3 linked regions of the Homo sapiens genome follow. The protein of the gene in region 3 interacts with the protein of the main gene of each other region in a pairwise test. Each region holds a gene or a part of one and is shown on either strand. Other genes may lie near its edges. The genes, in order: ZNF205, PIBF1 and TSGA10.

Evidence for each region.
Region 1: the proteins of TSGA10 (region 3) and ZNF205 interact in binary tests that used the Homo sapiens proteins (3 or more experiments, as listed by UniProt).
Region 2: the proteins of TSGA10 (region 3) and PIBF1 interact in a two-hybrid assay, tested with the Homo sapiens proteins (one large-scale study listed by BioGRID).

Annotation. Positions count from the first base shown.
Region 1 is NC_000016.10:3,111,398-3,115,510, reverse strand, and holds the start of ZNF205 (transcriptional repressor RHIT), read right to left. Parts: upstream 2,926-4,113; 5' UTR 2,829-2,925; exon of another isoform or gene 2,561-2,828; intron 2,163-2,560; exon of another isoform or gene 2,095-2,162; 5' UTR 2,081-2,094; coding exon 2,024-2,080; intron 717-2,023; exon of another isoform or gene 624-716; intron 544-623; exon of another isoform or gene 157-543; coding exon 1-156.
Region 2 is NC_000013.11:72,820,057-72,823,706, reverse strand, and holds part of PIBF1 (progesterone-induced-blocking factor 1), read right to left. Parts: intron 1,859-3,650; coding exon 1,725-1,858; intron 1-1,724.
Region 3 is NC_000002.12:99,001,363-99,005,012, reverse strand, and holds part of TSGA10 (testis-specific gene 10 protein), read left to right. Parts: intron 1-3,650. UniProt on the Homo sapiens protein: Plays a role in spermatogenesis. When overexpressed, prevents nuclear localization of HIF1A.

The sequences.
Region 1 (4,113 bases), on a different chromosome or scaffold from region 3:
CCAGGCACCTTGAGCCCCATCCTCCTGCGATGCCCCCTCGGAGTGTGGCTCTTCGGGCTCCATCTTAATGTGCAGTGACTCCTGAGTGTCCCCTGAAGGTACCGCCTCCCCCAGCTTAGAAGGCATTTCCTGATGAGGATGTCCACGATCTGGAACCTAGAAAGGACAGCCCCATCAGCACCCAGATGAGTGGGAGAGACACCCAGGGCCACATGGCAGTGCGCTCCGGCAGCGTCGGAAACCAACATGCAAGACGCAGCTTGAAGGACTGTCCTTGCTGCATTCATCCAGCTCACCCCAGCAAGGACGGGCGGCAAGAGGAGGAATATTCACCAAGCCGCCTCCACAGTGCCGGTGGGCGTGGTGCCCAAGGGCAGCTACCCCTTCTCAGCTCCAGCCTCACACTGACCTCAGCAGTGTAGACTGCTGTCTATTAGTGTATGAAGAAACCAAGTGTAGTGGCTTGAATAGTGTCCTCTAAGAATCCGTGTCCTCCCTGGACCTCAGAATGGGACCTTATTGGGGAAAAGGGTCTTTATACAGGTAAGTTAAAGATCTTGAGATTAAATCATCGTGAATTTAGAGTGAGCCTAAAATCTAACAATGACTTATGTCCTTATAAGAATAGGAGAGGACACAGAGACACAGAGAAGGAAGCAGAGACTGGAGGGATGCCCACACCAAGGACACCAGGAGCCCCCAAGGAGTTGGAAGAGGTAAGGGAGGGTCCTCTTAGTCTAGAGCTTTCAAAAGGAGTGTGACCCTGCTGACACCTAGATTTTGGACTGCAGGCCTCCAGGACTGTGAGAGAGCCAATTCTGGTTGTTTTCAGCCCCCCAGAGAGTGGAAACTTGTTACAGCAGCCACGGGAGACTAACACACCATGGCTGGGGATGAGACAATGCCCCGTGACCACATAGCTCAAAAGCTTTGGGAAAGTCAGGGAGGGCCCTGGTGGGGCCTCATCCACAGCACAGGAACTGGCCGGACTTCTGCTGGGGTCTCACACTCCTTCCTCCACGCCCTGTCTGTGTTTGGGTCTTGAAGGGAAAGAACCTCAGGCCAGGAATCAGAGTGCCTGGGTGCCAGACCCAGCGACACCCCTCCCCAATCAGGCAGCCTTCAGGACGCAGCTGCTCTGCCCCTGCACAGAATGGTCATGAGGTTCACGCAGATAATGATGGAGAAGGAGCTGCCAGCTCAGGAAAGTCCTGGATAAACACAGGGTGGCGCTGGTCATTAATCCCCCCCGCCGTGCGCACCAGACAGAAGCCAGTGCCAGCAGAGAATGCCAACATGTGGGGCTCTACTGACATGCCCAAGGTGTTCAAGGCACACGGGAAGTGGATGGGAAACTGAACCATGCTAACAATTCTTTGTGCTTCTATGGCATGAAAACCATAGATGATGGCGTCTCATGCCTATTATCCTTAGAGCCTCCCAGTGACCCTGCGAGACAGGTGGAAATGGCAGGCATGTGGTCTGCATTTTACAGATGACACATCTGGTTCCCAGAGGCCAGGGACTGGCCCCTGGCCTGTCGCTGACTCATACTCCTCCAACTCCAAGCCCGGAGACCCAGGTCCCCCACAAATAGTAATTACACACACACACTCAACCACGCACGCACACACACACGGGTAGCAGGTACAGGAAGGAGAAAGGACCGGGAGCTCAGACCCACAGAGATGAGAAGCTGTGGTTCCAGGTGGAGAAGCACGGGGAAGGAGAACAGGTTTCCCTGTGTGCTCTGAGCGCTGCTCAGAAAGAAAACCTCACTGATAGGACCTCCACCCAGACCTCTTCCATCTCCTGTGGCCACTGGCTAGAGAATTCACCAGCAAAGCAAAACTGTTATGCTGTAAATTCCAGACAGAGGGTACTACCCAGCATGCCACCTTCTCTTTGATCTCCCCACCCCAGTGAGTCTAACTCTTCCAGGGGTCCAGACTCTGTGCCTTGAAAATCTCCTCCGCACCAGCCTCTTCTACCGCACACCTCCCTCAGCCAGCCCCATCTGTACCTCCGGGGGTGTCTCCTTGTCCTGGGTGTCCTGGATGCCTCCGCCGTCTGCAGACATTTTCTATTTCAGAGCTAGAAAGAACAGCTGAGTTGTTTCTCCCTCTTTTTGGCCAAGCCCCCTCCAGCTTCTGGCCAGGAGCCTAGAAGAGCAGACAGAAACCAGCCCTCGCTTCCTGGACACCCCCAAAGAGCCCTGAAAATCCCCACGAGTACCAGCGCTCCCTGGTCCCAATCGGAAAGAAAGTCTCCCAGATCCTATCCGATGGTCCCACTCTCTGTGATGTTTTCTGGGTCCTATTTTTGAAAGAATGCTATTTTGTATTGTCCCCTTTATTGCTGAAGCAAGAGCCTCGCATCTCAGTGTAACCGGCTCAGGGAAAGCCGAGGCTAAATTGGAATCGCTATTTCCTGTCATCAGGAGCAGAAAGTTCTGCAGAGATCCTGCAGAACAGGTGCTGGTGGGGCCCCGCCCGTCAAGGCCAGGGTAATCCAGGACCTGCTGTCCCCCGACCCCAGGACATACACCGTGTGTCCCTACCTGACTCCCATGCCCACCAGGAATTCAGAAATCAACCTGCCCGCTCTCAGCAGCCCCCCTGCAGCTGCAACCACCTGCCCCAGGCCTGGGATGCCCATCCTGCTCTCGGTCCTGGCAGACAATGTCCTTCTCCTTCCCAAACCCGGTCCTGGCCCCCTTCTCTCCTGCCAGCTTGAAGCCTTCCACCTTTGACCCCATCCCCTCCTGCAAGCTGATCATCTGCGCCGGTCTCGGGATCCAGATGCCCTCCCCAGCACCCCCTTCTCACCGGGGTGGAGGCAGAGGGGGCACCTGCGGCAGTGGGGGCCCCCTCCCCCGGGAAGGGAGTCTCCACAGCCTGCACGGGGCGGGCGGGGGAGTTGGGTGGAGACTGGGAGTAGGGAAGACAGGAAGTCCCTCCCAGATCCCATTCCCCATGCAGCCGCAGCCCTACAGCGTTCCCGGTTTTGAGGGTTCCGGGTGTGGAGTCTCGAGCCTGGGTTGCACCTGCTCTTGGCCGGGAGGTGACTCCCAGAGCCGCAATGCCAGCTCATGAGGATGGCTTTACCCAGGACGCGTTCATGATGCCAGCAAGGCAGAGCCACCAAAACAGAAAAATGGAAGATGCATTTTGTGGAAAGATTGTGTTATTTGAAATTTCAAAGCGAGCACTGCAGTTGTCCTCACAGGTAGAAAGAAGGGCATTTTGCAGGGTGGAGAGGGCAGGACCATTTATTTTAGCACTCGGGGTTTCTGAAGGTTATTGTCTCCTGAGGGACCCTGAATTCATTTAGGGACTCCTAGTCAAGGGCCCTCTGGGTCCCCCCAAGACTGGCACAGAACTCTCTCCCTAAGAGTGAACTTGGGAAACAGGCTGGGAACTCCCCCCAATCCGGATGCCCCACACCTTGGGAAGAAGTTGGTTAATCCGATTCTTCCAGGCCCATTTCAGCTTGGGGATAGAGGGTGTGATCCAGCTATAAATGGGGTTCTAAGTTCTCAAACACGCCTGGCAGCTGCAGATTCTGCCTCTCAGGCACCATTTCCCTTTAGACCCTGAGAAGTAAGGCCTCAAATAGAGAGGACAGAGACTGTGCTTTACTTTCTGGGGGAAGGAACCATTTCTCTTGGGCAGGCATGGGGGCTGGGTGTCAGGAAAAGGGCCAGGGGCCCAGTCCTGGAATCAGATTCCAGGAAGTTTCCCTAGGAAACGTCCCCATGCCACTGTCTTTGGCTCACCAGAATCCCCTGAGGTGCACAGCTTCACACAGTAAGATGGGCCCAGCTGCCTCTGTACCAGCTCGTGCTATGTTGTGTGGGCTTTTAAGGGTTTGTTTGTTTATTTATTTACTTATTTGAGACAGGGTCTTGCTCTGTTACCCAGGCTGAAGTGCAGTGGCACGATCATAGCTCACTGTACCCTCAACCTCCTGGACTCAAGCAATTCACCTCAACCTCCCAAGTAGCTGGGGCCACAGGCGCATGCCACCATGCCTGGCTAATTTTTTAAATTTTTTTGTAGAGATGGGGGTCTTGCTTTGTTACCCAGGATGGTCTTGAACTCCTGATCTCAA
Region 2 (3,650 bases), on a different chromosome or scaffold from region 3:
ATTATATTGCAGAGTAAATCTCAATTTATTTTCCATTCTGCTACTGAAAAGCATTTGAATTTCTTTTAATAATGACACAATTAACATCCATACACCTGTTTCCTTTTGTACATTTGTGAGAATTTACCCGGGGCATAAAAGGGCTTTTTTTTCTTCCCCAGTTTATCTTATATTTTATGACCGATGTTTTTAAACTCATTCATTCTGCTGAGTGAACTAAAAAGGGTCATAGTTTGAGTCCTTTCTTGTTTTACTATTCCATTTCTACCATAAAGATGCTTATCATGCTTTTTGATCAAGGTTATATTTTTCTTTCCTAGGTTTTTATTATAGTAAATGAAAACATATGTAAAAATAGAGGTGATATAATGAACACCCATGCTCCCATCACCCAAATTCAGTAATTATCAACTCATGACTCATCTTGTTTCAATGATCATCCGTGGCCCCGATGGATTATTCTGATGACTGTGCTTTTTAGTTTTCTCTTTTTATATTGTATCTGTCATTGCTATAGACTGATAGTGGCAGAGGGGACATGAAAATACCAACTGGTATCATCTTAGCATCATAATCTATTTCATTTTTATTCTTTTTTATTTTATATTTTTAAGAGATGAAGTTTCACTCTGCCACCAGGCTGGAGTGCAGTGGCATGATCATAGTTCACTGCAGCCTCGAATTCCTGGGCTTAAGCAGTCCTCCCACCTCAATCTCCCAAGTAGCTGGGACTAAAGGCATGTGCCACTATGCCCTCTACTTCATTTTTAAATGCTTCTTTTGAACTCCAGCTTTATTCCAGAGCCCACTGAGCACAGCTCTCATGGATTTAAAGCTCCAATAATTATCATATTTTGGCATAATGCCATATACATAAGAAATACCATGTGTCAGTCATAATGGGAGTAGAAATGACAATCTTCTATCCACAAATCTTTGCAAATTCACATACGGTATTATGCAATTTGTAATTTAAATTACACAATTTAAATCATTCATTCATTTAACAAATATTCACTGACTACTACATTTTAAGAATTATTTCAAGTGGAGTGAACAATTAAGATAAGGTCATTCCATTTATATTACATATGCAGTACATATATATTTAAAGGCTTTCATATTTATTTGATCTTAGTTTATATAGTGCAGTTATCCGTATTAGCAACATCTCATAAATGATGAAACTTAGGCTCAGAATGAAAAGAGATGTACTGAGGGACATACAGCTAAGTAGCAGCTCATTAAATTACTGAACAAACAACAGAAAAGAATATTCCAGTTAAAAAAAGGTATTTGCTATAAGTAGCAAATATTAGGAAACATATTTTCAGAAAGTGTCATTTTTTTTTTGAAAGAGTGTGTGTCTTTTGTCAGGAAGAAACAGCTGAAAAAAACTTCAGGGAAAACTGTTAAGTATTTAAATTGATTCCACTACATAAAAATAATCATCAAATAACACTGAAAAAATATTTACACACGTGTGATTTTACTGGGTTTCTATCTCTGTTTACATTTTAAGACAGCAGTGACATCTAAATAAAACAAAAACAACCAATATAAAAATACAATATAAACCCAACAAACTGCCAAAACTGCATGCATTTGTGCAAAGAAGAATAAGGTAAAAGTAAAATTAACAACTGATTGTTGGTAAAAACTCAGGTGACTTTGATGCACCCTAAAAATAGAGAACTACTACTGCAGCCATTTTAACTACTTACCTCTTGACTTTATCATAGTTCTCTTGACGGTAGTCACCTTGCTGAATTAACTGTTTTGTGTCTGCTAATTCTAAGGCCAAACGTTGACATCTAATTTGAACTTCAGAGTAGTTTTTTCGATCTTCCTCATATGTCTATAAACCAAAGGAATAATAACACATTTCAGACTAAACACTTAACATAGTTGCCCAAATTCTGTATTGAAGTCTTCTGTTAAGCTGTGATTGTCCTTGTAATTAAACAGTAAAAAAAATTCCTCAATTTTTAAATTTAGTAATTTTTCCCTATTCAAAGGCAAGTAATCTTAAGTTCACAGAGTGGTCTGTAAACTCAGTTGTTTAAAACTTAAACTGTTTTTCAAATAAATAACACAACAACTATGTTTTAGTTACTAGGCTAAAACATAAAATGACTACAAATGTTAAATGACTTTTTAAAAACATTTACTGAGTTACTATCAGATGCTGAAGATACAGAAGTGAATAAAACACACTTCCTGTTCTTGAGGATTTTACAGTTTAGAGATGAAAAGTCATATGGATATCAGTATCTACAATGAAAAATAATTAATGAAGAGATTAAACATGCAGTTCCAATTGTGTTACTCAGAAAAAAAGGAATCGTGTGACCCTCGAAACACATCTTTACATTGTTCTTCCCTCTACTCTCCCCATGTCAGTAGCATGTTAAGAAAGGCATTGCTGATATGGGAAGAGCAATGGAAGTAAAAACCTTAAAGTTGGTCACAAGGTTCTTTACAATCTGGTGCTGCTTCCTACAAGCCCCATTTCTCACCATTCCTAACATTCACACTTCACCCTCCAACCCTAATGGAGATCTGAAATTGTCTGAACCCACTAATGCTGCTTCTAACCTGTTCCCACTGCCTGAATACCTGCATATAATCTAAATGCTTGTCTCCTTCAGAGCACTGATCTCACTGTATCATTACCATCACATTAGTTTTCTCTTTATCTCACCAGAGTGTAAACATCTTAAGGGTGGGGATTTTGTCTTGCTCAACGCTGGACCTCCACCACTTTAAACACTGCCAGGTATATAATAAGAATTAAATAAAAGCTAAAAAAGAAATGATTAAATATGGGAAGCTGGGAGGGGAAGCAGACGGGACTAAATTCCTACTTATTTTCCTTCTTTGAACTCATCAAATCTTGCAACCAATCATCAACTCCACCTTCAGAAGCTGGCATGTTAAATGCATCCTGTGTTAAGTCATTACTGCTTAAGTAGCTGGCCAGCTAAATGAGGTCATGTTCACTCCACACATACTGACTGGATCATTTCTGTGTGACTGGTCACGGATTAGGCACTACAGATACAAAGATGAGTAAGACGATTTTGTCCTTTTTAAACTACTAAATGTAACTTTGATTATTTTAGTCCCCAAATTTCTATCAAAGGGCTATTTGAGAGAAGTAATTATGGAAAAACTACATTCAGTGTGTTTTGCTTTGGTATGGTATTATGTTCTTGTTCTACGCTGAAGTTTTCCATGAGAATGGAATGTTACTATGGTACTTATTATGGGATTACAGCTGAGGATACGCTATCACCTCCCGAAAGATCATCACATATATCATTTCGGACCTAAGTCCTACAAGAATCTTTAGTTCTTCTGAAGAATGCTTTATCCTTCTAAACATCATTAATCATGTCACTGTTTTGGAAGAGAGTATAGTGTTATGGCTAGGAAGGCAAGCTCCAGAATTCAACTGTCTAAAACTGAATTCCTGCAGTAAGACTCTGTGCACGTTAGTTTACCTCTCTATTCTGGTGTCCTACCTCAGAGTTCTTGTGAAGCATATATCAAGTAATACATGTAAAGTGCTTATAAAAATGTCTAACGTAGTAAATGCTGATTAACTATAAATTAATATTGTTATAATGCTTCCTCTTTGCTTTGGC
Region 3 (3,650 bases):
GGATTACATTTATTGATTTGCATATGTTGAACCAGCCTTGCATCCCAGGGATGAAGCCCACTTGATGATGGTGGATAAGCTTTTTGATGTGCTGCTGGATTTGGTTTGTGAGTATTTTATTGAGGAGTTTTGCATCAGTGTTCATCAAGGATATTGGTCTAAAATTCTCTTTTTTTGTTGTGTCTCTGCCAGCCTTTGGTATCAGGATGATGCTGGCCTCATAAAATGAGTTAGGGAGGATTCCCTCTTTTTCTATTGATTGGAATAGTTTCAGATGGAATGGTACCAGCTCCTTCTTGTACCTCTGGTAGAATTCGGCTGTGAATCCATCTGGTTCTGGACTTTTTTTGGTTGGTAAGCTATTTATTATTGCCACAGTTTCAGAGCCTGTTATTGGTCTATTCAGAGATTCAACTTCTTCCTGGTTTAGTCTTGAGAGCGTGTATGTGTTGAGGAATTTATCCATTTCTTCTAGATTTTCTAGTTTATTTGCGTAGAGGTGTTTGTAGTATTCTCTGATGGTAGTTTGTATTTCTGTGAGATCGGTGGTGACATCCCCTTTATCATTTTTTATTGCATCTGGATTCCCTCTTTTTCTATTGATTGGAATAGTTTCAGAAGGAATGGTACCAGCTCCTCTTTGTACCTCTGGTAGAATTCGGCTGTGAATCTGTCTAGTCCTGGACTTTTTTTGGTTGGTAAGCTATTAATTATTGCCTCAATTTCAGAGCCTGTTATTGGTCTATTCAGAGATTCAACTTCTTCCTGGTTTAGTCTTGGGAGGGTGTATGTGTCCAGGAATTTATCCATTTCTTCTAGATTTTCTAGTTTATTTGCATAGAGGTGTTTAAAGTATTCTCTGATGGTTGTTTGCATTTCCGTGGGATCAGTGGTGATATCCCCTTTATCATTTTTTATTGCATCTATTTGATTCTTCTCTCTTTTCTTCTTTATTAGTCTTGCTAGTGGTGTGTCAATTTTGTTGATCTTTTCAAAAAACCAGCTCCTGGATTCATTGATTTTTTGAAGGGTTTTTTATGTCTCTATTTCCTTCAGTTCTGCTCTGATCTTAGTTATTTGTCTTCTGCTAGCTTTTGAATGTGTTTGCTCTTGCTTCTATAGTTCTTTTAATTGTGATGTTAAAGTGTCGATTTTAGATCTTTCCTGCTTTCTCTTGTGGGCATTTAATGCTATAAATTTCCCTCTACACACTGCTTTAAATGTGTCCCAGATATTCTGGTATGTTGTGTCTTTGTTCTCATTAGTTTCAAAGAACATCTTTCTGCCTTCATCTCGTTATTTACCCAGCAGTCATTCAGGAGCAGGTTGTTCACTTTCCATGTAGTTGTGCAGTTCTGAGTCAGTTTCTTAATCCTGAGTTCTAATTTGATTGATTGCACTATGGTCAGAGAGACAGTTTGTTATAATTTATGTTCTTTCACATTTGCTAAGGAGTGCTTTACTTCCAACTATGTGGTCAATTTTGGAATAAGTGTGATGTGGTGCTGAGAAGAATGTATATTCTTTTTATTTGGGTTGGAGAGTTCTGTAGATGTCTATTAGGTCCACTTGGTGCAGAGCTGAGTTCAAGTCCTGGATATCCTTGTTAAGTTTCTTTCTCGTTGATCTGTCTAATGTTGACAGTGGGGTGTTAAAGTCCCCCATTATTATTTTGTGGGAGTCTAAGTCTCTTTGTACATCTCTAAGGACTTGCTTTATGAATCTGGGTGCTCCTGTATTGATTGGGTGCATAGATATTTAGGATAGTTAGCTCTTCTTGTTGAATTGATCCCTTTACCATTATGTAATGGCCTTCTTTGTCTCTTTTGATCTTTGTTGGTTTAAAGTCTGTTTTAGGCCAGGCACGGTAGCTTACGCCTATAATCCCAGCACTTTGGGAGGCCGAGGCAGGTGGATCACGAGGTCAGGAGTTCAAGACCAGCCTGGCCAAGATGGTGAAACCCTGTCTCTACTAAAAATACAAAAATTAGCCGGGCATGGTGGCACTTGCCTATAATCTCAGCTACTCAGAAGGCTGAGGCAGAGAATTGCTTGAACCTGGGAGGTGGAGGTTGCAGTGAGCCAAGATCGCACCACTGCACTCCAGCCTGGGCGACAGAGTGAGACTCTTTCTCAAAAAAAAAAAAAAAGTTTGTTTTATCAGAGACTAGGATTGTAACCCCTGCTTTTTGTTGTTGTTGTTTTCCATTTGCTTGTTAGACCTTCCTCCATCCCTTTATTTTGAGCCTATGTGTGTCTCTGCATGTGAGGTGGGTCTCCTGAATACAGCACACTGATGGGTCTTGACTCTTTATCCAATTTGCCAGTCTGTGTCTTTTAATTGGAGTATTTAGCCCATTTACGTTTAAGGTTAATATTGTTATGTGTGAATTTGATCCTGTCATTATGTTGTTAGCTGGTTATTTTGCTCGTTAGTTGATGTAGTTTCTTCTTAGCCTCGATGGTCTTTACAATTTGGCATGTTTTTGCAGTGGCTGGTACCAGTTGTTCCTTTCCATGTTTAGTGCTTCCTTCAGGAGCTCTTTTAGGGCAGGCCTGGTGGTGACAACATCTCTCAGCATCTGTTTGTCTGTAAAGTATTTTATTTCTCCTTCACTTACGAAGCTTAGTTTGGCTGGATATGAAATTCTGGGTTGAAAATTCTTTTCTTTAAGAATGTTGAATATTGGCCCCCACTGTCTTCTGGCTTGTGGAGTTTCTGCCAAGAGATCTGCTGTTAGTCTGATGGGCTTCCCCTTGTGGGTAACCGGACCTTTCTTTCTGGCTGCCCTTAATATTTTCCCTTCATTTCAACTTCGGTGAATCTGACAATTATGTGTCTTGGAGTTGCTCTTCTCGAGGAGTATCTTTGTAGCGTTCTCTGTATTTCCTGAATTTGAATGTCGGCCTGCCTTGCTAGATTGGGGAAGTTCTCCTGGATAATATCCCGCAGAGTGTTTTCCAACTTGGTTCCATTCTCCCCGTCACTTTCAGGTACACCAATCAGATGTAGATATGGTCTTTTCACATAGTCCCATATTTCTTGGAGGCTTTGTTCGTTTCTTTTTATTCTTTTTTCTCTAAACTTCTCTTCTTGCTTCATTTCATTCATTTGATCTTCAATCACTGATACCTTTTCTTCCACTTGATTGAATTGGCTACTGAAGCTTGTGCATGCGTCATGTAGTTTTCGCGCCATGGTTTTTAGCTCCGTCAGGTCATTTAAGGTCTTCTCTATGCTGTTTATTCTAGTTAGCCATTCGTCTAATCTTTTTCCAAGGTTTTTAGCTTCTTTGCGATGGGTTCAAACGTCCTCCTTTAGCTTGGAGAAGTTTGTTATTACTGATCCTCTGAAGTCTACTTCTGTCAACTCGTTAAAGTCATTCTCTGTCCAGTTTTGTTCTGTTGCTGGTGGGGAGCTGTGTTCCTTTGGAGGAGAAGAGACACTCTGATTTTTGGAATTTTCAGCTTTTCTGCTCTGGTTTCTCCCCATCTTTGTGGTTTTAATCTACCTTCGGTCTTTGATGTTGGTGACCTACAGATGGGGTTTTGGTGTGGGTGTCCTTTTTGTTGATGTTGATGCTATTCCTTTCTGTTTGTTAGTTTTCCTTCTAACAGTCAGGACCCTCAGCTGCAGGTCTGTTGGAGTT